4 linked regions of the Homo sapiens genome follow. The protein of the gene in region 3 interacts with the protein of the main gene of each other region in a pairwise test. Each region holds a gene or a part of one and is shown on either strand. Other genes may lie near its edges.

Region 1 (7,562 bases), on a different chromosome or scaffold from region 3:
AGAGCAAATGCCAGATTGCGCTGTGTTTAGGAGTAAAATGCAAGGGAAGAAGAGATGCAAATGTAGACTATTCTTGTCAAGCAGCTTGGCTATAAAGAAGTAGAGAGGGATTGGGAGCTAGAGAGGGGCATAGGGTAGAAGGAGAGACTGAAGCATGGACATGAGCGGAAAGAAAGATCCACCAGAAAGAAGATAAAGACAGAAGAGAGAGGAGGCAGGCAGGGCTGAACTTCAGAGCACAGGTCCCAGGAGAAAGGAGTCTCCTTCCTTTGAAGGAAAGAAGGAAGGATGGTGACAGAGACAGATGGAATGGTGAAAGATAAGTCTGACAGAACTCTCTGGTCCCTTTCCATATATCCACTCAATGTCTGATGGTAATGATCAAGCATAGTGCCCAAACCAGCCTTGCCTGATTTCCTGATGGGTCATTCTCCCTTCCTGGCTTTCTTGCCTTCAATATCTTCCCTGTCTTGGGCAAACAGGTGTGGGCTGAAAGTCTTGTAGACACTTTCATGAACGCTGGTCACTTTCATCAGTCCTGTTCCTCTCATCCCATGACTATTGCTTCCCCAGACAGATGAAGCAATGTGTGAGCATGGAAGAAGACACCGAACTAATTCTGAGAAAGGAGCATCCTTAACAAATCCTCTCTCGTCCTGTGATGTCACCCCATATCACTTATGGTCTGCACTATCCATAAAACTCTTGGTTGAAGGTGGTCCTGTTTGTCCTCCCATTACTTGAGATCACCATTCTCTCCTTCATCAATAACAGGTCTTTATTAAATGACTACTGTCTAGGTTGCCAAGATTTTCCATCTTAACAGAGAGAGTATACATGTATGTATGTGATATATATAGTGTGTAAATATATACACATATGTAAATATATACACATGCATATATATACACACATAATAAATAAAAACAATACCACAAGGTAGCACAAACTGCAAAGTGAATAATATAGGCAAAACAGCATTAGGCTTGAATCTGGAGCCCTGAAATAAGAGAAAGCTTCAAGGGGGTAGTGTGAAGTAGGGCTTTCATAGAAGGAAGGGTAGGTTTAAATAATAAAGGAAGGAGAATGTTGCCGACAACTTGGCAAACACCAAGAAACGTGCTTGGCAATGTTTAGGGAATAACTAAACAAGCAGTTTTATGAATCTATTGAAGAATGCAGATATTATCCTACAAAAATGGGGAGCTACTGAAAGTTTTAGAATGAAGACTGACTTGTATCATGTTTTTATATGTTTTTACAATTAATTTGGAAGAACTGTGTAGATCAAAAAAAATAAAGGGCAGGGATAATTCAGACACTATTGTAATACTTAAGGTGAGGGTGATAAAGAGCTATAGCATCTTAAAAAGTGTATGCAGTGAGGTGTTGGCAGTGGGGATGGAAAGAAATCGGTGTCTGCCTGGATATGGAACAAGAGAAAGGAGGCCAGCAGCACTATAAGGTTTCATGCAGGAGGGAAAGGAGAATGATGATACTCTGGAGAGAATCAAATAGGAAAATTCAGAGAGTGCAGTTCAGTGAGCAAAGAAGTTCAGTGAAGTTTAAGCTATGTGGGACTTGGTGATAGGAACATATTTGAGTGCAGATTTAGAAATCTATGTCAAAAGCTCAGGGGAGACATCAGTACTGGAAGCGTTGGTCTGGGAATCATCCACGTGAGGAAATGTAGACGCAAAGGTAGGAGATAAAGTGGAGGAAGGGGAACTAGTGAGGATGGAGGGTGTGAGAAGCAGCCCAAGAGACAGAAGGTTAGGAGAGTAGAGTATTTCAGAAGTCAAGGAGGAGGCAAGTTTTAAGGATGAGGAAGTACAAAAAATGGTAAATACTAAAGAGATTGCCTATTGAGAAAAGGCCAGCAATATGGTCACTCATGATCTACAAGAAAGTCTCAATAGGAAAGAGGGGAGGAATAAATCGGTGGTGATGGTTATAAAAAGATGATGAAAGCAGACAGTGAGACCACCCTTTTGAGAAATATAGGGGCGAGAACCACCACTATTAATACGTTGAAGGGGAGCTAGATCAAAAGACGATTTGCTTCCCCTTTCAGGACTTCATCAGAACTCTTGGCAGAAAAACTGACTGAAACATAGGAATAAGGTTTTGAGGAAGCAGGAGAGGTTGGGATAAAAAACAAAAATCTTGAGGAACTAATCTTGGCACTAAAGAATGGCAGTCAGGAGAGGTAAGAGAGGAGGTGTGAGGAATCATGGATTTTTTAAGTAGAAAGGCGAGGCAGTTCTTCAGACAACCTTGTTTTTCTCATCAATGGAAGGGAATTAGCTGCAGCATGTGTGAGGGATTTGATGCTTAATAAACTGAGAAAGGAAAGGTAGAGGTGGCCAGGCGCGGTGGCTCACGCCTGTAATCCCAGCGCTTTGGGAGGCCGAGGCGGGTGGATCACCTGAGGTCAGGAGTTCGAGAGGAGCCTGCCCAACATGGTGAAATCCAGTCTCTACTAAAAATACAAAAAATTAGCCAGGTGTGGTGGTGCATGCCTGTAATTCCAGCTACCTGGGAGGCTGAGGCAGGAGAATCGCTTGAACCCTGGAGGTGGAGGTTGCAGTGTGCCGAGATCCTGCCATTGCATTCCGGCCTAGGCAACAAGAGCAAAACTCAATCTCAAAAAAAGAAAAAAAAAAAAAGGGAAAGGTAGAGGTAGCCCGAATATAATCTTAGATATGGCATCATAAGGTTGTGTTCAAGTTCCAGATATGTTAACTTGGGCTGGCCATCCAAGACCTGGCAAGACCTCTTTGAGGCCATTTCCTTACAATATTGTTAAAGGTTAAATGAGATACTGCTAAATGAGATATTGCACGTGTAAATTATGAAGTACTTCTGAAACAAGAGAAGCTTGAAACTACTACCACAAGAAATGTGATACAGTATGAACAAGAGATGAAGTAAAGCACAGCCAAGCAGCAGGGAGGGTAAAGGTGAAGTTCAAAGCAAGAATATATAGCAAACCCAAGTCCACACAGTTTTTGTGACTTCCTCCAGCCTACTGGAGAGGCGAATGCCGATTTTGAGAGTAGATGCAAGAAGGACAAGAGGCTGAAAAAAATCTAGGTAAGGACTATTTAAAAATCTTTGGAGATATGCTTAACATTTGGAAATTACTTGCACATTTTATATAAAGGTGGCATTTGACTCATTGGCGTGTTATATTTTGGAAATGGCCAAACATTTCATTTTTATATTTTATAATGGTTTTTTTTTTTTTTTTCATATTTTGGGGTTAACTTTTTTTCAGATTCCATACTTTTAAAAGCTTAGGCTCCAGACACTATGCCTATAGCATGAAACAGATAATGAAGGAATCAAGTGAAACAGTCGCCCACTGGGTACAAATTAAGTAGGGAAGGTCATGAACAAAGAAAGCAGTGAGGGCCCAGTAGACAAGCTGACGCAACTGGAGATAACAACAGGTGGAGGGGAAAGGAGCAGCTGTTTCCATTTTTGGAATTTTGGAGAATCAGGAGACGCCTGGTAAGGCCAGAGAAGGTGGCCGTGTAATTATAAAGTTAAAGGGGTCGGACGTGTTCATCTTCCCAATTAGTTTTAAGCCCACAAAGGGCTTGTCCCTCATTGCCACCGTCCATTGTCTCACTGTGACCAGGCAGGAGCCCTCCGTGATTGACTGATAAAAACAGCGGGTCCAACTCGCTCAGCTCGTTTCTGTTACACAGGACTGTGGAATCCCGGGTGACATTCAACTCCTTAGGTCATCTGCACTCCCCCCGGACCGGAAAACAAAGCCTTCCCGAGCCCGACAAGGAGGGTGGCGCTCCCTGGCCCGGCCGAAGTAAGCCCTCCATTCGACACCTCGGCTCCACGGTCTCCCGAACCGGTCCCCGTAACGCGAGCCTGAGATGCCCTCACCCCCGAAAAATACCCAAAGTCGGGGAGCCGCGGGAGTGCTTGTACCCAGCACGCTAGGCCTGAGGGACCTGTGAGCTACAGTAAGCGCCTGAGGACAGAGGGGAGCCTCGCAGCCTCAAACCCGCGTGGAGGAGAAACGTCTGGCGCCCCCGAGCGGCCGAGACCTCGGGAGCCCGAAAAACGTCTCCCACTCCCAGCGCAGAGCCAACTGACAGTGCCATCCACCAATGGGAGAACCCAGTCTGCGTTCGTGGGACGAGTCCGAGGGCAGAAAGAAGGCCGTCCCGGCGCCAAATCAGCGTGGCTTTTTAAGAGGTCCTGAGGCCTCTCTGGTCACCACAGAGAGAGGGACAGTCCCTGTGAAACGGTGACGCTGACTACACTATGCCGCTCGCTCCGAGCCTTGGCCTTTTCCTCCCGCCGCACTCTAAGCCCTTCGGCCGCCCCGCCCACGGCCTTGTCAGGTCCCGCCCCCCGCGTGAGTGGACTGGCGAAGATGTGGAATTTCCAAAACTTATTGGATGCTTAGTGGCGTCACTCTGGAGGGCGGCGGGGCCCGGAGCGGCGAGGGCCGCCGCTCTCGGACGGTGATTGGACTCGCCGGAGTAGACCGGGCTGGGATTGGTGTGAGGAGGGGCCAGAGCCCGCGGGCGTCCCGGGCCGAGGCGCGGGAGAGGCGGTGGACACCGAGAAGCCCGCCGGCGGCTTGCAATTCCCTCACCCGGCGCGCGCCTTTCGCAGAGGGAAGGAGCAAGAGGGCCCCTACCTCATCGTGCGCGGGTGGGGTCGGCGCTTGTCGCGTGTGGCGCGCAGTGGGGCGGGCGGCGGGAGGGGGGTGGCAGTGGAGGGAGCGAGAGGTGCAGGGGTGACTTTGTTGGCAGCAGGACTAGCTGGAGAGCTAGACCTGGAAGCGCATCCGGGGAGGACTTGCGGGGCAGAGGAGGGCGTGGGCGTGTCTGGTGTGGGATGCAGTGGAAAGGAGGGGGCCCTCCTGAGTAGATCTGTGGGTGATTCCTTCGAGGACGCCTCGTCTTCCCGTCTGCCCTTTTATTTGTCAGCGAGGGAGTCCCCATGGTCTCTGTTCAAGTTCTGGAGACTTTCTCTTTGGGTGGGCTTAATCACCTGCTACTAAATCGTAGAACTGCCCAGGGCCCTTTCTAATATTGGTCACAAACGTGAGGAGTATGTCAGAAAACAGAAAACCGCTGCTGGGCTTTGTAAGCAAACTCACTAGTGGGACTGCACTTGGGAACTCAGGCAAGACTCACTGCCCCCTGTGCTTGGGGCTTTTCAAAGCCCCCAGGCTCTTGCCTTGTTTGCATACAGTTTGCACCACGTGTCTGGAGCAGCTGGAGCCCTTCTCAGTAGTGGACATCCGAGGGGGAGACTCTGACACAAGCTCTGAGGGGTCAATATTCCAGGAACTCAAGCCACGAAGTCTGCAGTCGCAGATCGGCATCCTTTGTCCTGTATGTGATGCTCAGGTGGACCTGCCCATGGGTGGAGTGAAGGCTTTAACCATAGACCACCTGGCCGTGAATGATGTGATGCTGGAGAGCCTACGTGGGGAAGGCCAGGGCCTGGTGTGTGACCTGTGCAACGACAGGGAAGTAGAGAAGAGGTGTCAGACCTGCAAAGCCAACCTCTGCCACTTCTGCTGCCAGGCTCATAGGTAAAGATGGGACACTCCATCAGGTGTAGCTTAAGAGCAGATTACAAAGAGGTGTCAAGACAAATCCCTCGGTGAGCAGATGAAAAGGAAAGCCTTCTCAAATACCGTGGAAGGTCAAAGAGCAATATAACAATGCAATAGCAAATACTCCAGTACAACAGTTAACCCGGTTAGCCTAATATAGTACCTAATATATAGCCTAATATAGCAATAGCAATAAACCCTTTCAATTTACAAAGTGCAGCTACAGTTTCCTTCAGTCATTCGTGTAGTGAATAATTGTACTGGGTGCTGGAGAAACAGGAGAATGAATATAACAGCATAGATCCTGTTCTTGATCTCCTTCGATCTTGCAACTCTTACAGAAAAGCAGGCCCTGTTTTCGCCCCCATTTATTAATTGGGGAAACAAGCTCAGCAATATTATGTGATTTGCCAAGGTCCTACAGTTGGTAAGTGTGTAACAGAACTGAGTATTAAATCCAGATCATTTTGACTACATTCCAGTAACCCATGCTGTGCTCCTAGAATAGGTGATGATGATTGGCCGGACCTCAGCTTTTGCTTTGTGTACCTTAGAGTTACTCTGGAGCTTGGTGAGGTGGGCTGGTAGGTGTTAATTGGGGTGCAGACTATGTGTTTTATGGCATTTGGTGAATAGTTTGTCAGATGGATCACTTTTGTCCCTTCGTACTCTTACCTTACCCCATCCTAGGACACCAGAATATAAAATGACCACAGTTTTAGGATTAGCCTAAAATAGGTTTCGGGTTCTACTTCCATTTGTTTTCTGGCTACACTAACAGAACAAGTTTGTAGACTTCACTCTATTTTTAACTTGTAATTATGTGATAGTCCCTGCGACTGTCTTGCTGCCAGCCAAACCAGCTAACCCTATTTTCTCTGCAGCCACTCTTCTGGTGCCAGAATAGGCATATAAGCTTCAAATTGATACAATGCTAATGGAGGAACTCTGAACAGTCACCATGTTTTCCTAAGGATTTCCCTACATCTCTAGAGGGCTACTATAGGAAAGGAATTAGAAAGAGAGCTTTGATTCTACTAACCATTGGTTTCACACTTTCTTTTCTCTTTTTTTTTTTTTCTGAGATGGAGTCTGGCTCTAGTCGCCCAGGCTGGAGTGCAATAACACAATCTCCACTCACTGCAACCTCCACCTCCTAGGTTCAAGCGATTCTCCTGCCTCAGCCTCCCCAGTAGCTGGGATTACAGGCACATGCCACCACGCCTGGCTAATTTTTTGTATTTTTAGTAGAGACAGGGTTTCACCATGTTGGCCAGGCTGGTCTCAAACTCCTGACCTCAGTTGATCCGCCCACCTCAGCCTCCCAAAATGCTGGGGTTACAGGCGTGAGCCACCGCGCCCGGCCGGTTTCACGCTTTCTAATGATGTTGACGATGTCTCTTGAAAAAAATTCTAGCCTGCTGATTTGGGTGATACAGGTCAACAGAAATGCTTCACCAAAATCTTAGATGCAAGCTAGATGAGACTTGGTGTCTGCTTTTTAATTGCTTGGACTTTATTGCTGTGTTATCTGGCATGGTTTCTGTTTCTTGATGCTGGTTTTCTGCCATGCCCTCACTGCTAGCTTACCTTAGGAAGCCGACTGTGACTCTTGTCTAAACTCTTTGGGAAAGTTCTAGCATGCAGTCATAGTCTTGCAACCTTCTGCATAGGCATGTAGCCAGCCAGAGCCCTAGTCTGTTCACACGTTATTCTATACAACAGCTCTTTCAGGTAGGTATTGTCCCCACTGTACAGATGAGAAACTGGAATCAGAGAGGTTCATGCAATTAGAGATTAGAGCAAGGAATTGAAATCAGGTTTGTTTAACTTCAGATCCTGTGCTCCTAAAATCTCTCTGCCCAACTATTCCCAACAGAATTATCCCCTTATTTCCTGTTACTGATTCTGTTTGCCCCTAGGCGGCAGAAGAAAACGACTTACCACACCATGGTGG
Region 2 (2,945 bases), on a different chromosome or scaffold from region 3:
GAGGGCCTTTGAGAGATGTGTATTCAGAATTACTGTCAAGGAAGAGTTAGAGGGACCAGGGGTGTTTAAATGTGAGAAGAGTTGACCAAGACAGAATCTGAGAAGTATTTTCATCTATTTTAAGAGCTGGCATCTAGCGGAGGGATTAAAGACCACCAGTGGGTGACATACAGAAATGGACTTTAACTCAACTGAAGAATGCATCTTCTAAAACCACAGACAGCAGGGGCTTGTAAGGAACTGAGCTCCTGGTCACTGGAAGTGGGCACTAATGACTAGGTGGCTGTCTGTCTGCAGTGGTAATCATGAGAAGGATGGACCGCCCCCGCTCTCTGCCGCCACAATACAATATTCTTCATTAAGATTTGATGTGTCTAGAATTCCACAGTTCCTGTGCATGCCCAGTGTCTAGAGCTTGCTATTAAGTACTTGTTTACTTTTGTACAGAGAATGGCTTCAGGCAATAGGAATAAAGAAATCACACAGCTGAATACACCAAGTTATTACACTTCAAAAGAAAACTTTAACACTGACACATGTGATATCTTACCATTTATTATAATTGCGCACATTAGTGTGGATTAAGTATGATTAGAAACACTAAGCAATTGAAAAGAAGCAAAAAGGTAATGCATCCCTCTTCCTCAGATCTGCAAAATTCTGTGCCTTTTTAGACATGAGAGAGGCTGTTTTGGATCTAAGTCAATAATGGCTCTTGCAAGATTTCTTTCAATGTCTTGCATGTTGGTTCTAAAACTCCCTTAAAGGCAGACTATACCTTGAACGGGGGAAGCCAGCCTATCTTGGGCCTCTTTACCTTGCCTTTCATCCACTGGTCCTGCACTGAGACTCAGGGATAGCACCTCTCACCAACGGGGTGACTTTTATTTCCTTCACTCATTCATTGAGTGCCTGTGTGTTAGTGTCCACCACGTGCCAAGTCTGATGTTGGGGACTACAGCTGAGGAAGAGCAGTTGGTATTTAGTGTGGGTACATGCCCTCCAGAGGAAATCCACTACAAATAAATGGAATGTTCCTCTCTGATCATTTGGCAGGAAGAACAAGCCCACAAGCCAATGTGCATAGGGCTCAGAAACTGGAGAAAGACGTAGACATTTTATAATTAAATCAAGAGCAGAGGCCCTCATTTTGTATCAGAAATACTCTAAGGTTGTTCTTCCTTTCAAGGAACTTACAGAGTGATGCTGGGCCCACAGATGGCAGAGTCCAGCTGAACCTGAGCAGAGGATCGGCTGACTGCATGGACAGGCTTACATCTGCCCAGCCATCCAACGAGTTTCCATGTCCCAAGTACCTGGGGCCCCAGCAGTTGCCACTAGCTTAAGGCAGAGTCTAGACAGGAAAATGGGTCACTGAAAGCTCTCTGCTCAGATCAGCTAGCCCCCTGGAGCTTTTCCTGGATTCACAAGCTCCTCTTTGGTAATGTCTGTGAGTCAAATCTGTTCTCAGCTGAAAGCATCTCAGTTTGGAGGCATTTTCATGGGCGGAGAGGAGGGAAAGGGGCAGCTTGGCCCTTGAAGTACTTCATGGGGGGGGGGATAATTCAGGGATCCAGGATGCCCAGAGGAAGAGTGTGATTTCACACCTTCTGCTCTTTGCAAGCCTATGCCTTTGGGAGGCCTGAAGGGAGGGTGTTAACCTGGCAGGAACTGTGTACCCTCTGCACAGTGCTTGGCACACACTGAGCACAAAATCAATGCTTGCTTTTGTGGGTGCTGCTCTGGGAAGAGCATGGGCTCTGTAGCGTTCTGCGCAATGCAATAGCCACCTCTCTGAGTTCCAATATCCTCATGTCTAAGATGGGATGAGAATATCACCTTCACAGGATTATTATGGGGATTAATGCCATTACTCTGTGACAGTGCCTGCTATGTGGTAGAGCCTCAAGAAATGTTAGCTGCTTTTCCACCTCCTTAATCCTGCTGGGATCTATACACCCTAAAACCCACTTGGGAAGATTTATGTGTGAAGTTCAGGGAGCAGAATTGAGGGCAAATTAATCAGCTATCAAGATTCCAACAGACACAGATATCACTTTGATCAGTAGCATCCTAAAATCACATCCTACTGAATTTAAACCTAATTGTGTAAATTTTCCAACACATGCCAACATACCTGTAAGGGAACACTCAAATATAGTGAAAGGTGAGTGGAAGACCAAATGAAAAACTGCTATATAACTCAATCAAAAGCAACTAACTACTTTTACAAGTGTATGGAAATTTAAAAAAAATAGATATGGCAAATAGACAAGCTAAACACTAGCCTATGCCAATCCCTAGCATTTGATGTCTGCAATTTACCCACCAGGGATCATCAACAGTCTTCAACTTGGCCCATTATAAGCCTCAAGGGAGTCAGGACACACTGAACCCTACACTTCTGCCCACTTAAACTCATTAGAAAGCCAATCTGTCTTAGGGAAGCCAAGATGGAATTCCTGTTTGATCCTCTTTGGTTGAGCCTGAAATGACATCATGGGCATAAAGCGCTTTCTAAGCTACAAGAAGCTACACACACAAGCAATTATCATAGCATCATTAAGATACGATATTGGATGTATGCAACTTCAACTTGAGAAGGGCAAAAGCATGAAGAAATCAAACAGGGAGGGAGGAGGTGAGGGAAGGGGAGACAGCAACTTGGGGCAAAACTGGGGACAGCCAAATTTGTCCACGAGTCATCAGCTTCTGATCAGCCTGGCGGTGGGGGGTCGCTAAAAGAAAACAGAAGTAGCCATGAGACTGGAAACACATCAGCTAGAGGCCCTCAGGGTGGGTGACTGCTCCAGTCATCAGGAGTTACCACCTAGCTCAAGGTGTGTCTTCTGGAGAGAAGACCATCAGCATGGAGCTAGTGGAAAGCCTGGTTGCTACTGCCTTCAAGGGATATATTCTGCTCTGTGCTCAGACACCGTGATAAA
Region 3 (6,924 bases):
CTGCAGTCCCAGCTACTAGGGAGGCTGAGGCAGCAGAACAGCTTGAACCTAGGAGGTGGAGGTTGCAGTGAGCTGAGATCATGCTACTGCACTCCAGCCTGGGTGACAGGGCCAGACTCTGTCTCAAAAAAAAAAAAAAAAAACTGGGGGCCAGGTGCAGTGGCTCATGCCTGTAATCCCAGCACTTAGGGAGGCTAAGGTGGGAGGGTGGCTTGAGCCCAGGAGTCAGAGACCAGCTGAGCAACATAGGGAGAGCCCCACCTCTACAGAAAAAATATATTTTTTAATTAGCTAGTCATGGTAGTGTGCGCCTGTGGTCCCAGCTACTTGGGAGGCTGAGCTGGGAGGATGGATTGAGCCCAGGAGGTTGAGGATGCAGTGAGTTGTGATCATGCTGCTGCACACCAGCCTGGGCAACAGAGTGGAAAATAAAAATTTAGGGCCGGGCACGGTGGCTCACACCTATAATCCCAGCACTTTGGGAGGCCGAGTCGGACAGATTATGAGGTCAGGCGTTCGAGGCCAGGAGTTCGAGACCAGCCTGGCCGACATGGCAAAACCCCATCTCTACTAAAAATACAAAAATTAGCCAGGCGTGGTGACGGGCACCTGTAGTCCCAGCTACTTGGGAAGCTGAGGCAGGAGAATCGCTTGAACCCAGGAGGCGGAGGTTGCTGTGAGCCAAGATGGTGCCACTGCATTCCAGCCTGGGCGACAGAGTGAGACTCTGTCTCAAGAAAAAAAAAAAAATTGGCGGGGTACAGTGGTTCATGCCTGTAATCCAGCACTTTGGGTGGCCAAGGTGGGTGGCTTGCTTGAGCCCAGGAGTTCAAGACCAGCCTGGGCAATATGGTGAAACCTCATCTCTACAAATACAAAAACTAGCTGAGCATGGTGATGCTCGCCTGTGGTCCCAGTTACTCGAGAGGCTGAGGTAGGAGGATCTACTGAGCCTGGGAGTCAAGGCTGCAGTGAGTCCTGATCATGCCAGTGCACTCTAGCCTGGCAACAGAGTGAGACTCTGTCTCAAAAAAAAAAAAAAAAAAAAGGAAAAAGAAAAAAAAAGGTAAGTGGTAAGAAGTAAATCATTCAGTTCAATGATATTCCCTACTCTGGTCCTACCTGTTCACCTGTCAATGTATTCAATGTATAAATACAAGATTACAACTTGTAGGTGGATTGAGCACTACTTTTTTTTTTTTTTTTTAAGGTGGTACAATGTTTCTTTTGCCTTTTTTTTTTGAGACAGGGTCTTGCTCTGTTACTCAGGCTGGAGTGCAGCGGTATGATCATAGCTCTCTGCAGCCTCCAACTCCTGGGCTCAAGTGATCCTCCTCCAGCCTTCGCCTCCCCAAGTGTTGGGATTACAGTCATGAGCCACTGCACACAGTCTTTTTTTTTTTTTCAGTTTTTAATTTTTTGTGTGTTTTTTTTTGAGACAGAGTTTCACTCTTGTTGCCCCAGGCTGGGGTGCGATGGCACGATCTTGGCTCACCGCAACCTCTGCCTCCCAGGTTCAAGCGATTCTCCTGCCTCAGCCTCCCGAGTAGCTGGGATTACAGGAATGTGCCACCATGTCTGGCTAGTTTTTTTTTTTTTTTTTTGTATTTTTAGTAGAGACGGGGTTTCATCATGTTGGTCAGGCTGGTCTCGAACTCCCAACCTCAGGTGATCCGCCCGCCTTGGCCTCCCAAAGTGCTAGGATTACAGGCGTGAGCCACTGCGCTGGGCTAGTTTTTAATTTTTATGGGTACATAGTATGTGTATATATTTATGGGGTACATGAAATGTTGCTACAGGCATGCAATGTGTCATAATCACATCATGGAAAATGGGGTTGGCCTACTGTTTCTAAAGGTGAAAATGAACAACAGAGTTTCCTATCATGTAGAACCTTTGGTGCTGTCCACCCCTTTCTAGCCCTTAAATCTGACAGTTTGAGGTGGCTGCTCCTTGTGTAAGGAGTTGCAGGTATGTGGAGAAGGGTGGAACAGTAAACACAGGATTGCACTGGAAACAGTTCAGACTAAAATAAACAAATCATTATCTGCTTGATAAATCTTCTTGGCTAAAACCAATGTAAGTGGGAAGAAAGCCACATGTAGATTGTAGTTTGAAGAATAAAATGGTGAAAAGGGATGGGGCATGGTGGCTCACTTCTCTAATCCCAGCACTTTGGTAGGCTGAGGAGGGCAGATCGCTTGAGCTCAGGAGTTCGAGACCAGCCTGGGCAATGTGGTGAAACCCCGCCTCAACAAAAAATAAACAAAATTAACTGGGTGTGGTGGCACACACCTGTAGTCCCAGATACTGGGGAAGCTGAGGCAGGAGGATTGCTTGAGCCCAGGAGGCAGAGGTTGCAGTAAGCAGAAATTGCGCCAATGCAGTCTGGCCTAGGTGACAGAGTGAGACTCTGTCTCAAAAAAAAAAAGTGAAAAGGCAGTGTACCTCAACACTTCCAATAAAGCCAGCACTTTGTGCACTTCCAGAGATGCAAAGCTTGTAAGGAAACGTTTACCTGGTGTCTTATACATAGTTTCACTACTTCTGGGGTAGGCACACTGAATCGATCTTGTCAGTTATCAGAGGACCTCATTCAGAATGCCTAATGATTAAGCAGGATGGAGGAAGAGTTTAAAAATTTCAACATTATAGCCTGCACGGTGGCACACGCCTGTAGTCCTGAGGCTGAGGCGGGAGGATGGCTTGAGACCAGGAGTTCGAGACCAGCCTGGGCAACATACCAAGACCCTCCCGTCTCTTAAAAAGGAAAAATTCCAACATTAGGAAATTTATCTAATCAAGAGTTGTGTTTATTTCAGTTACTAAGAGACCCTGCTGTTAATCCAAACTCCCACCCAAAGAAGTGTAAAGACTGCCTAGATTTCAGGAAAGCAGGGACAGGGAGTTAACCTAAATTTCCACGGATTCCAACTCACTTTCCTTTCCTTTGCCAATTTTCCCAATCCCCAGAGTCGGGGTCCTCTAGCAGCCAAAGTGTTCAAGACTGAGATACGTGAGGGAAAGGTGAGTGGGCGCAGCACTGCTCTTGGCTGCTCTGCTGCCCTCTCAACGACTCACTTCGCTCACCGCTCCTCTACCACTCACGTCATCACGCACCGACATCTCTCCACATCCTCCGTGCACACCGCTCACCCTCAGGTTCCCAGGCCTCTGTCCTCTTGCCCTTCAGCCGGCCCCGCACTCCAGTCCCCTGGTCTCCGACACACGTACTCACCGACCGAGTCGGGGAGGCTTCTCCCCGCATGCACCATCATCCGGGTCTGGATCGCCACCCACACGACCCCACTATTCCCATATTCCTCGCGGCCCGGCTCCAGCCACTCACCTGGTCCTCGCCCCGCAACCATGGCCGGTCCCCTGGCAGCCCATCGCCCTCATCGCTGGCGGGGTCGCCGGGCCCTTCGTAACCTAGGACGTGAGGGCAGCCGCGGAAGGCGAAGTCTTCGAGCTCCCGCAGAAGGCGCTGCTGCTCCGCCGGCGCCCCGCGCACCACCTGGCGCAGGCGGAACTGCACCTGCGCGAAGTGCGAGGACAGCGCCAGCAGCGCCGAGTCCAGCCGCCGCCGCTCTGCCCGCAGCCGCCGCAGCGTCCGGCCCGGCGAATCCGGCGGGGAGCCCGGGGCCGCGCCAGGCTCCTCGGCCGTCGCCTCTTCTAAAAACGCGGTTGCCCCAGGCCGGGCCTCCGCCACCGCCCCCACTGGGGCCCAGCGCACCGCCTCGCACGGTGGCAGCGGCTCCTCTTCCTCCTCCTCTTCGTCTTTCGCCTTTGGCCCAACAGCCGCCACCACCGTTACCGGCTCTGCAGCCGCTTCGACAGCCGCCATCTTCCCGGAAACACCACCGCACGTCAGCCGCGCCCCCCTGCTGCCATGGCAACGGCGCGGTGGCCTGGAACCCCAGGGGAGTGGTGGGCGGGGCCTGAAGTACCCAAGTCCCCGAGGGCGCGCCTTCCCCGGGAATTTAATTCAGGACAATAATGTTTTATTGAGCGCCTATTGTGAATCAGACACTGAGCAGTAAGCGTCGGAGAAACAGGTGAATGATACCGGGGAAAAGTCATTCCCTGTGTGTAGCGTCTAGGGCAGCCTTTGCCCTGGTTCCAGCAGATGGGTTGTCTCTTCATAGTCTATGCATTTCTGAAGACCCCACGGTGAAGGGCTGCAAGGATGAAGCTGTCCCAGAGTATCTCCAGAGTGCAGATCCCTTGGCTGCCAGGTCATGTTCTCTCTTCCTCTCAACTGCTCTCCCGACCATATAAGGAGAGGCAGCTGCTGGGGGCGTCCCCAGGATCTAAAGATAGCGGCCCCTGCCTGGAACTCTAAATGCCACCCTGGAGCGGGAGCCGCAATGGCACGGTGAGTGTTTCCGGCTCCGGTGCTCCCCCTGGCCCTTTTCCCTGGAGATTCCCTGCTCCAAGTCTTCTGGGCGCTCCAGGTTCTGTGAGGCCCCACGGGAGCCCCGGACCCCTGGTCTCTGTAACTGTGGGGTGAGGGAAGGTGTGACCTGAATGTTCTCCCTGACCTCCTAGTTTCCTAGTCTTGCACGTTCTATTCTTCCCAGGTTCACATTCACCACACCCACCCACTCCTGTCATTCCCTTCCCTTTCACCCCTTCTGTCTCATTTAGCTCCACTTTGAAAAAACTGTGGCATCAAAGGTCCCTGGGTAGTCCCTTCCCAAATGACCTCAGTCTTCCCTCTCCCACCCCTATGAAGCCACACCTCAACTTCTCTTCAGGCAGCACGCCCGGACCTTGTGGTACGACAGGCCCAGGTATGTGTTCATGGAGTTTTGTGTTGAGGACAGCACCGATGTCCACGTGCTTATTGAGGATCACCGCATTGTGTTCAGGTAGTGGCCCTGCCGTCCGAGGGCCTGGCTTCCCAGGAATCTACCCCTTTCCTAATGTCCCCACACGGAGTATTCCGCATCTCCTCAGCTTCATTGTCTCCTCAGCTGCAAGAATGCCGATGGAGTGGAGTTGTACAATGAGATTGAGTTCTATGCCAAAGTGAACTCCAAGGTAAGGGTGAAATGGGACAGTAAGGTTTGGATGGAAACCGGGCTGCCCAGGGAAACTGGAGATTAATTCTAAACCCCAGACCCTAAGAATGAGGCTCTCTATCTGGCAGGACTCCCAGGATAAGCGCTCTTCCCGCTCTATTACTTGTTTTGTGAGAAAATGGAAGGAAAAGGTGGCCTGGCCGCGGCTTACCAAGGAGGATATCAAGGTGGGTGTGTGGAAAGTGGCCTGCTTCTTCTCTCCATGTACCCAGGTTACAGCTGGGATTGTCCTTGCCTCCTTTCCAGCCAATATTCAATCACTCAACAAGTCCTGCCTAATCTTTTTTTTCCAACTGTATTAGTCTCTCTTTTTATTTTTATTTATTTATTTATTTTGAGACGGAGTTTCACTCTTGTTGCCCAGGCTGGAGTGCAGTGGCGTGATCTCAGCTCACCATGGCCTCCGCCTCCCGGGTTCAAGCAATTCTCCTGCCTCAGCCTCCTGGGTAGCTGGGATTACAGGCATGCACCACCACGCCCAGCTAATTTTGTATTTTTAGTAGAGATGGGGTTTCTCCTTGTTGCTCAGGCTGGTCTCGAACTCCCGACTTCAGGTGATCTGCCCGCCTCGGCCTCCCAAAGTGCTGGGATTACAGGCGTGAGCCACCGCGCCTGGCTTATTTTTTAACTTAAAGTTCTGGGATACATGTGCAGAACATGCAGGTTTGTTACATAGGTATACGTGTGCCATGGTGGTTTGCTGCATCTATCAACCCGTCATGCAGGTTTTAAGTCCTGCATACATTAGCTATTTGTCCTGAGTCTCTTTTTACTCTCTTGGTAATCTCTCCCAGTTAACTTACTTTCGTTGTAGGTGATGAAATGTGTAAGACTCCACTTCAGATATTGGCACTGCTATGAACATGGTCTTTCCCTTTACTGCAACTCACAATCAAAACCTTTGATTCTTTTTGTGTGTGTGTTTGTGTGAGATGGATTCTCACTCCCGTAGCACAGGCTGGAGTGCAGTGGCGCGATCTTGGCCCACTGCAACATCCACTTCCCGGGTTCAAGCGATTCTCCTTCCTCAGCCTCCTGAGTAGCTGGGATTACTGGCTTGTGCCCCCACGCCTGGCTAATTTTTGTATTTTTAGTAGAGACGGGGTTTCACCATATTGGTCAGGCTGGTCTTGAATTCCTGACCTCAGGTGGTCTACCCGCCTCAGCCTCCCAAACTGCTAGGATTACAGGCGTGAGCCAATGTGCCCAGCCATTTCTTTTTCTTTTTTCTTTCTGTTTTTTTTTTTTTTTTTTTTTTTGATTCGGAGTTTCGCTCTTGTTGCCCAGGCTGGAGTGCAATGGCATGATCGCAGCTCACTACACCTCCGCCTCCCAGATTCAAGCGATTCTCCTGCCTCAGTCTCCCGAGTAGCTGTGATTACAGGCATGTGCCACCACACCCAGCTAATTTTGTATTTTTAGTAGAGACAGTGTTTCAACATGTTGGCCAGGCTGGTCTCAAACTCCTGACCACAGGTGATCCACCTGCATCGGCCTCCTAAAGTGCTGGGATTACAGCTGTGAGCCACTGCACCCGGCCTCTGCCAATTCTTGTTTTCTATATTCCAGTCCCAGAAGTAGTTTCCACTGTAGAAATTAATTGATGAGTCTTATTCTTTCTTTTCTTTCTTTCTTTCTTTCTTTTCTTTCTTTCTCTCTCTCTCTCTCCCTCCCTTCCTCCCTCCCCCTCTCTCTCTTTCTTTCTTTTTCTTCTTTTCTTTTTTTTTTTTTTGAGACAGAGTTTCTCTCTTGTTGCCCAGGCTGGAGTGCAATGGCGCCATCTCGGCTCACTGCAACCTCCGCCTCCTGGGTTCAAGCGATTCTCCTTCATCAGCCT
Region 4 (7,037 bases), on a different chromosome or scaffold from region 3:
TTATGATAAAAATTATACAAAAGTAGCACTTAATGAAGAAAATAAACAAATAATAAAGAATAATATTATACAATATATTGATTTTGGAACTTTATAGAGGATATGGAAAATATACCAAAGAAAGCAAAAGACAATTAACAATATCTGATTTACCAGAGAGGGCTTAATATTTTCTTTTCTTTCAATTTCATCCTCAATAGGCTTTTCTTCTCTTGGTATTATATTCCTCTCCTCCTCCATCTTTATTTCTTTGATCTCTGTTTCATTTTCCTCCTTAACTTTTATTTCTTTTACATTTTCACACTCCTTACATTGCTTGTTAACAACTTTCTCTGGCAATGCCATCTGAAATTCAATGTTGGCTGATCTACAGTACTCCTCAAAACCATATAAGTATCTGGAAACATGAAGAGAAATTACATTTGGTGAAAACATTTCAAAATATAACTATAGAGTTATTTTTAATGTGTATTCATTTCTTTTGTCTAAACTCTCAGATATTGAGCCATATTAACATTCTAATTTATTCTAGTTCTTTCTAATCTTTTCAATGCAAAAAAAAAATTTTGTCAAAAAATTCATTTAAAACACTGTGCTCAGAGTCATAACAATAACAGCTATTAAAAGTATTAGTAATAGCATCTATTTTTTGCACATTTCTTATGTGTGAGGCTGGACTCCTTAGTAAATCTCATTTAGTCACTACAGTAACCCTGGGGCACACAGCAGCATCCTTTTTTTGTTTTTTTTTGTTTTTTTTTGTTTTTTTGAGACAGCCTTACTCTGTTGCCCAGGCTGAAGTGCAGTGGCGCAATCTCAGCTCACTATAACCTCCGCCTCCTGGGTTCAAGCAATTCTCCTGCCTCAGCCTCCTGAGTAGCTGGGACTACAGGCGTTAGCCACTATGCTCAGGTAATTTTTGTATTTTTAGTGGAGACAAGGTTTCGCCATGCTGGCCAGGCTGGTCTTGAACTCCTGACCTCAAGTGATCTGCCCGCCTCGGCCTCCCAAAGTGCTGAAGTTACAGGCATGAGCCACCGTGCCTGGCCAAGCATTCCATTTTACAAATGAAGAAACTGAGGCTTAGGAGAATAAATAACTGGCCCTAGGGCATAAACAGTTAATAATTGGCAGAACTAGGATTCAAATGTGGATTTACTTGACTTCAGAATATTAGCTTTTTAACCTCTATGAAGTACTTGACAAATGTACTTAGCCACAAAAACTTTCTTCACAGAATTTCTCATAGATCTAGTATCATAGAATACACTTTAGAAAATACTATCATAGAATGACTACTCTAGTAAAATGTTCTGATTTCTTTAAAGAAATAATTAACCTCAGTTATAAGGTAAATTTCATCCTGCTTTCTAGGTAAAAATACTGAAGATAATCATATCAATTATACTAACTTACTTTTTATAAGCACATTTAACATTGTATCCTGCAGCTGAATTTAAGACAGGGATTCCAAGATCTTGGTAGACTTGTTTCCAAACAGCTCCACTTTCAATCTAATGGACAAAGTGAAACAAAAACTCTCAAATTAAAAGGTGTTAATATAATAACATTTTGATAGACACAGTATATATGAGTATATTTTTATATTTATTGGTCCTAGACTCAAAAGAATTTTTAAAAACTTGATAAATTCTAAATTTGGTTTAAAAATAAAGGTTTTAGTACTCTAACAAATATCAGAAAATTATAAATGTTGAAATATTAAGTCATTTGACTATTTTTTTTTTTTTTTTTTTTTTTTTTTTTTTTTTGGAGACAGGATCTTATTCTATTGCCTAGGCTAAAGTGCAGCAACAGTGGCACAAACACAGCTCACTGCAGCCCTGAACTTCCGGGCTCAAGGGATCTTCCTGACTCAACAACCCAAGTAGCTGGGACTATAGATGCACACCACCACACCTGGCTAATTAAAAAATTTTTTTTGTGGAGATGGAGTCTCACCATGTTGCCCAGGCGGGTCTCAAAGTCCTGGGCTCCAGCAATCCCCTGGCCTTAGCCTCCCAAAGTGCTGAGATTACAGGCATGAGTCACCATAACTGGCCCCATTTGACTTTTAAATAAACCCAGTTATGGAAAATGGAAAAATATTCAGGCTCTTAAATCAAAATTTTTAACAAAGAAATGGAGACAAACATTTTTAAAGGATTTATTATTTCGCATAAAATATACAGGCTAATAAATGCAGTTCTGCAGAAATTTGTAAAGTATTTTATTCCATAGAATATTCTCAATTGGATAAGTATCGTACATCACGTCAACCTTAAAATAATTTCTTCAGATCAGTTCAACAAACATTTCCTGCTTTAATCCCTTTATATTCTGAAAGGGATTAAGAATATACAGAATATTAAGACAGATCCCTGCTCTTAAGGAGCATACTGTCTAATGAAAAAGAGACACAGGAAGGATTTCCACCAATATGGCTGTGCTGTGACTCAGATAAAAAAAGAAGGTTTATGAAAGATTGACCAATTTAACAGTAATCAGAAAGCTGATATGAAAAAAAATCTTTTTTTTTTTTTTTTTGAGACAGAGTCTCATTCTGTCACGCAGGCTGGAATGCAGTCCAGCGGTGCAATCTTGGTTCACTGTAATCTCTGTCTCCTGGGTTCAAGCGATTCTCGTGCCTCAGCCTGCCATGTAGCTGGGATTACAAGCGTGCGTCACCACGTCTGGCTGATTTTTGTATTCTTTGTAGAGATGGGGTTTTGCTATGTTGGCCAGGCTGTTCTTGAACTCCTGGCCTAAAGTGATCTACCCGCCTCAGCCTCCCAAAGTGTTGGGGTTGCAGGCATGAGCCACCATGCCTGGCCTAAAAAATCTTTAAAATTTAAATTTTGTCTGAGGAGGCTAGCTGTACTTTCCACTTTATCTTCTTCTTAGGTTTTTACTGAAAAACTTTGTTTTGTTGTTTAGAAAAACAATTTCAGAGATGGCAGATACCTGAGAAAACATGTTACATGAAAAAGATGTTTCAGTTTGACTACAACACTCACATTATCAAATCCTCCAAGTTTGTGTACAAGTCTGAATAACTTAAAGAGATTCAAATTTCGATATCCAAGTACAGGTCGTTTGTTAATAGGTGTACCTGTTACAGAAAACACAAACTATATTAGATCCACACTACATTTTTAATTTAAAATTTCAAAAGATTCAAATAATACAAGTATTTATAGTATTTTATATATATATACACGTATATATATATATACACGTATATATATGTGTGTGTATATATACATATATATGTATATATATATATGAGAAATTATCTTGTTAATCAAAGACATGGTATCTACACATAAATAAGCCCATGGCCACTTTAAAATTTTTTAAATTTTAAAAACCATAACCAGATTCTTGAAACCTTTTATTTTCATTCTACTTTCTTCCCTCTGCTGAGGGAAGAAATACTAGATAACTGCTTCCCAATAAGAGTTACTTTTATGGCATTTTCTTTGTATTTTACCAATTTACTACTACTCTAAATAATGATTCTATAGTAAAGCTACATTTTTTTTTTTTTTTCATTCTAACACAAGAAAACGCAAGGCAAGGATGCTAAATCAAACAAACCATGAGAAAGTGGTAGAGGAGGTAACAGGGTAGGGGTACAATGCCTCATATGGCCATTTCTACAAAATATATGACTGGCTTAATCATATTTTTTCATTCTTTTCTAGTATTAGATTTTATTCATTTTCTTTGCTTTTTCATTTATCTTATACAAGAGCCTATGAAACAGCATACTTCTTAGGCCAACCCTCCATTCATGTAAAGAAATAATACAAGAATCAAAGACATTTTATATTGAAAAAGAAAATATACTTATATTGTGTTAGGCGTTGTTATCATTTATGAAAACTAAACATGACAAACAGAGTCAGTTTCTACTCATCAGCATTACAATCAGGGATTTAGAAAACGTTCAATTCCCAGAGTATTGTGGTGTTTCCAAACACTAATCATTCATTTTGCCCTTCCCTTCCAGCTAGAAAGCCTCTCCTTACTCCCTTACAAGCATCTTCCCAGAAAAGAAGAAAGTAGACTCTGACCAAGAAGATAAGCTAGAGAATAACAGTGTTGAGGTTACGGAAGGATTAGTTCATTACCCTAAGTTATTCTTCTTCCTTCAATCCTTCCGTGGCCTTAGCAGCTTCTGGCAGATTAAATAAGCTGAGCCAAGGCTCACTTTTGAGACTTTGTCACACTTCTTTATCTATTTCTGGCTTAATTCCCATTTTGCTACTGTTCTTTAGGGACCCATGGATAGGTAAAGGGATTGGCAGGACAGGGTAATAAGTGCATTTATGTGTCCATAGCCACAATATCTGTCAAAATGCTATCAAATTCCTCATTCTACTTGTTACGTGACAGGCGCTATGCTAGGTGCTGGTGATATCAGAGTCAAAAAGACAGCCATAATTACTGATGACATAAAGTTCAGTAAACAAAATTCTATTCTTATTTTTAAGATACTAATTATCTGTCCAAAACTTACCACGTTAATGATAAATAAAAAATACTCACCTCTATCTTCCATAAATTTGTACAATTGCTGAAGAAAGTTCTCCCTTTCTTCTGGAAATGGTTCTATTTCTTCCTAATTTTAATCACAGAAGAATATTATTTTCTTCAATTAAGCATTTTAATAAAACAAGCAGATTTCTTACCAATAGCAAAGACTAGTGTTCATTAAAATACTTCAAAGGCTTTTTACGTAATCAAAGTTACTCTTTTAACACTAAGCTGTTCAAAACCAGGTAAGTCTAGACATTTTATGTTTTATAGAGGAATATGCCTTAAAAAGTATCCCAATAGTTAGAATCCCCACAGTAAAAATTCCCATATGAGAAAAGGGACTAGCAAGACTGTTCGTGGTTTTGTTTTGTTTTGTTTTGTTTTTTTTACCATATGAGAGAGCTATTTTTCAAATCAGGATCACAGGTTCAAGAATACCTACTCTCAACTTATGCGAAACTGGATCAGAGTTAAACATCAAAACTAATTCTATTATTGCTCCTCAAGGTACTATAAAAGTATGGGTCCCATTAGCTGACTGCAAGTATCCTTCATTTTATGCAGCCCCACTGTATATACTTCAAGCTTACATAATCAGTAAAGTGGGGAACAAATTTGATCTACAATACCTGAAGATTCAGACTTAGGGAAATCTTCAAGTAATAAAATAGTTCCCCAATTTATCAATTACAAGGGAAGGACTAGCTTCTTGCTGCTGTGGCCAAGGGCTGTGGCAGCAGGGAGCTGGTCCTGAAGCAACCTGCAAGGAGCAGGGTAGTAGGTTAAGATTGAGGAACTCACCAATTCAATGACTTTCATCCATTCAACAAACACTTGAGCACCTGTAAGTGTAGGTACTATGCCAGGTGCTGAATCAAATAAAAGAAAAAATAGGCTATGGAGCCTACTGTTACAGAACATGATTAGGAGTAACTGCAGAGAAAATGATTCCAAATATACAGCTAGGCTTTACAGTTACTCTGGCTTAAATATACAGATTTGTAACAGTAAAAGTTAGGATATTCAACTGGTAATCTAAATAAATAAAAACATAGCATTTTTCAATTTGGAAAATCATGTGCCTAATGCCACTGCTTTAGCGAGATTGTCTTTTTAATTTAAAAGCTAGTACAACAAAGAAAGGTAATTTTTTTTTTAAAGCCTATGTTGATCAACTATTAGGTTTTCTAATTGGGCAGAGAAAAATAAATGACAACCATTAATTTGCTAATGATGAATCTGTATTTCTCAATTTAAACACACTCCATACATTCAGGTTTTGGTAAGGTGATCAAATACAAATCTAAGGACATCTATTTTCTAGATGTTATCTTAAATGTTCCCATGGTACAATATTTAACTTTAATAAACAGCACAATTTTTCCTATTCCAAAAACATTTAAGGTAAGCTTTTAACTCAAGAAAATGTTTACACTACACTACAGATTTGCTTTTACAAAAACACTTGTGAAAACACTAAGCACCAAAAGGTTTGGTAGCTATTTATCATCTGTTATATTTTACACACTATGACAGACACTTTAAGTATGAATACGAGTAAGACAGCATTCCTAACTTTAAGGAACTTACAAATTCGTGGGGAAGAAAAAATAGACAATAAATATAAATGACAAAAATATGTATAAGGAGCAGTAGTAATTCTTTTTTTGTTTTGTCTTGTTTTTGAGACAGAGTCTTGCTCTGTCGCCCAGGCTGGAGTGCAGTGGTGTCATCTCGGCTCACTGCAACCTCCGCTTCCTGGGTTCAAGCAATCCTGCTGCCTCAGCCTCCCTAGTAGCTGGGATAACAGGCACCTGCCACCACGCCCAGCTAATTTTTTTTTTTTTAGATGGAGTCTGGCTCTGTCACCCAGGCTGGAGTGCAGTGGCGTGATCTCGGCTCACTGCAAGCTCCGCCTCCCGGGTTGACACCATTCTCCTGCCTCAGCCTCCTGAGTAGCTGGGACTACAGGCGTCCACCACCATGCCCGGCTAATTTTTTGGTGTTTTTAGTAGAGACAGGGTTTCACCATGTTAGCCAGGATGGTCTCGATCTCCTGACCTCAGGTGATCTGCCTGCCTTGGCCTCCCAAAGTGCTGGGATTACAGGCGTGAGCCACCGCGCCCAGCCACACCCAGCTAATTTTTGTATTTTTAGTACAGACGGGGTTTCACCATGTTGGCCAGACTGGTCTCAAACTCCTGACCTCAGGTGATCCGCTAGCGTCAGCTTCCCAAAGTGCTGGGATTACAGGCATGACCCACCGTGCCTGCCAGGAGCAGTAGTAGTTTAGACTAGCAAATGAACTGGTGCTTTCCTGAGGTGAGGGAGGTGATGGTTCACAGGTTTCTCTTTAGAGAGATGGCACCTAAGTAGGGTTCTGAAAATTGAACAGGAATGTACCATGCTGACTAAGGAAGGAGGGGAGGAAAAGGTGGTGCCTACAGAGGTACTAGCATATGCAAAGGTGAGTAGCAGCAACATATGTAATT

What was found.
Region 1: the proteins of PTGES3L-AARSD1 (region 3) and TRIM45 interact in binary tests that used the Homo sapiens proteins (3 or more experiments, as listed by UniProt).
Region 2: the proteins of PTGES3L-AARSD1 (region 3) and ZNF185 interact in binary tests that used the Homo sapiens proteins (3 or more experiments, as listed by UniProt).
Region 4: the proteins of PTGES3L-AARSD1 (region 3) and ARID4B interact in binary tests that used the Homo sapiens proteins (3 or more experiments, as listed by UniProt).

What each region holds. Positions count from the first base shown.
Region 1 is NC_000001.11:117,118,733-117,126,294, reverse strand, and holds the start of TRIM45 (E3 ubiquitin-protein ligase TRIM45), read left to right. Parts: upstream 1-4,545; 5' UTR 4,546-5,093; coding exon 5,094-5,581; intron 5,582-7,527; coding exon 7,528-7,562. UniProt on the Homo sapiens protein: E3 ubiquitin-protein ligase that plays a role in the regulation of inflammatory response.
Region 2 is NC_000023.11:152,971,067-152,974,011, reverse strand, and holds the end of ZNF185 (zinc finger protein 185), read right to left. Parts: intron 2,739-2,945; 3' UTR 538-2,738; downstream 1-537. UniProt on the Homo sapiens protein: May be involved in the regulation of cellular proliferation and/or differentiation.
Region 3 is NC_000017.11:42,977,500-42,984,423, reverse strand, and holds the start of PTGES3L-AARSD1 (PTGES3L-AARSD1 protein), read left to right. Parts: upstream 1-3,895; 5' UTR 3,896-4,241; coding exon 4,242-4,378; intron 4,379-4,411; exon of another isoform or gene 4,412-4,519; intron 4,520-4,760; coding exon 4,761-4,874; intron 4,875-4,979; coding exon 4,980-5,046; intron 5,047-5,155; coding exon 5,156-5,254; intron 5,255-6,924. Other genes in the region: RUNDC1 (RUN domain-containing protein 1), read right to left, coding at 3,350-3,847; putative protein PTGES3L, read left to right, coding at 4,371-4,378, 4,761-4,874, 4,980-5,046, 5,156-5,254. UniProt on the Homo sapiens protein: Functions in trans to edit the amino acid moiety from incorrectly charged tRNA(Ala).
Region 4 is NC_000001.11:235,220,149-235,227,185, forward strand, and holds part of ARID4B (AT-rich interactive domain-containing protein 4B), read right to left. Parts: intron 5,415-7,037; exon of another isoform or gene 5,365-5,414; coding exon of another isoform or gene 5,347-5,364; intron 4,628-5,346; coding exon 4,555-4,627; intron 3,113-4,554; coding exon 3,018-3,112; intron 1,515-3,017; coding exon 1,417-1,514; intron 398-1,416; coding exon 154-397; intron 1-153. UniProt on the Homo sapiens protein: Acts as a transcriptional repressor. May function in the assembly and/or enzymatic activity of the Sin3A corepressor complex or in mediating interactions between the complex and other regulatory complexes.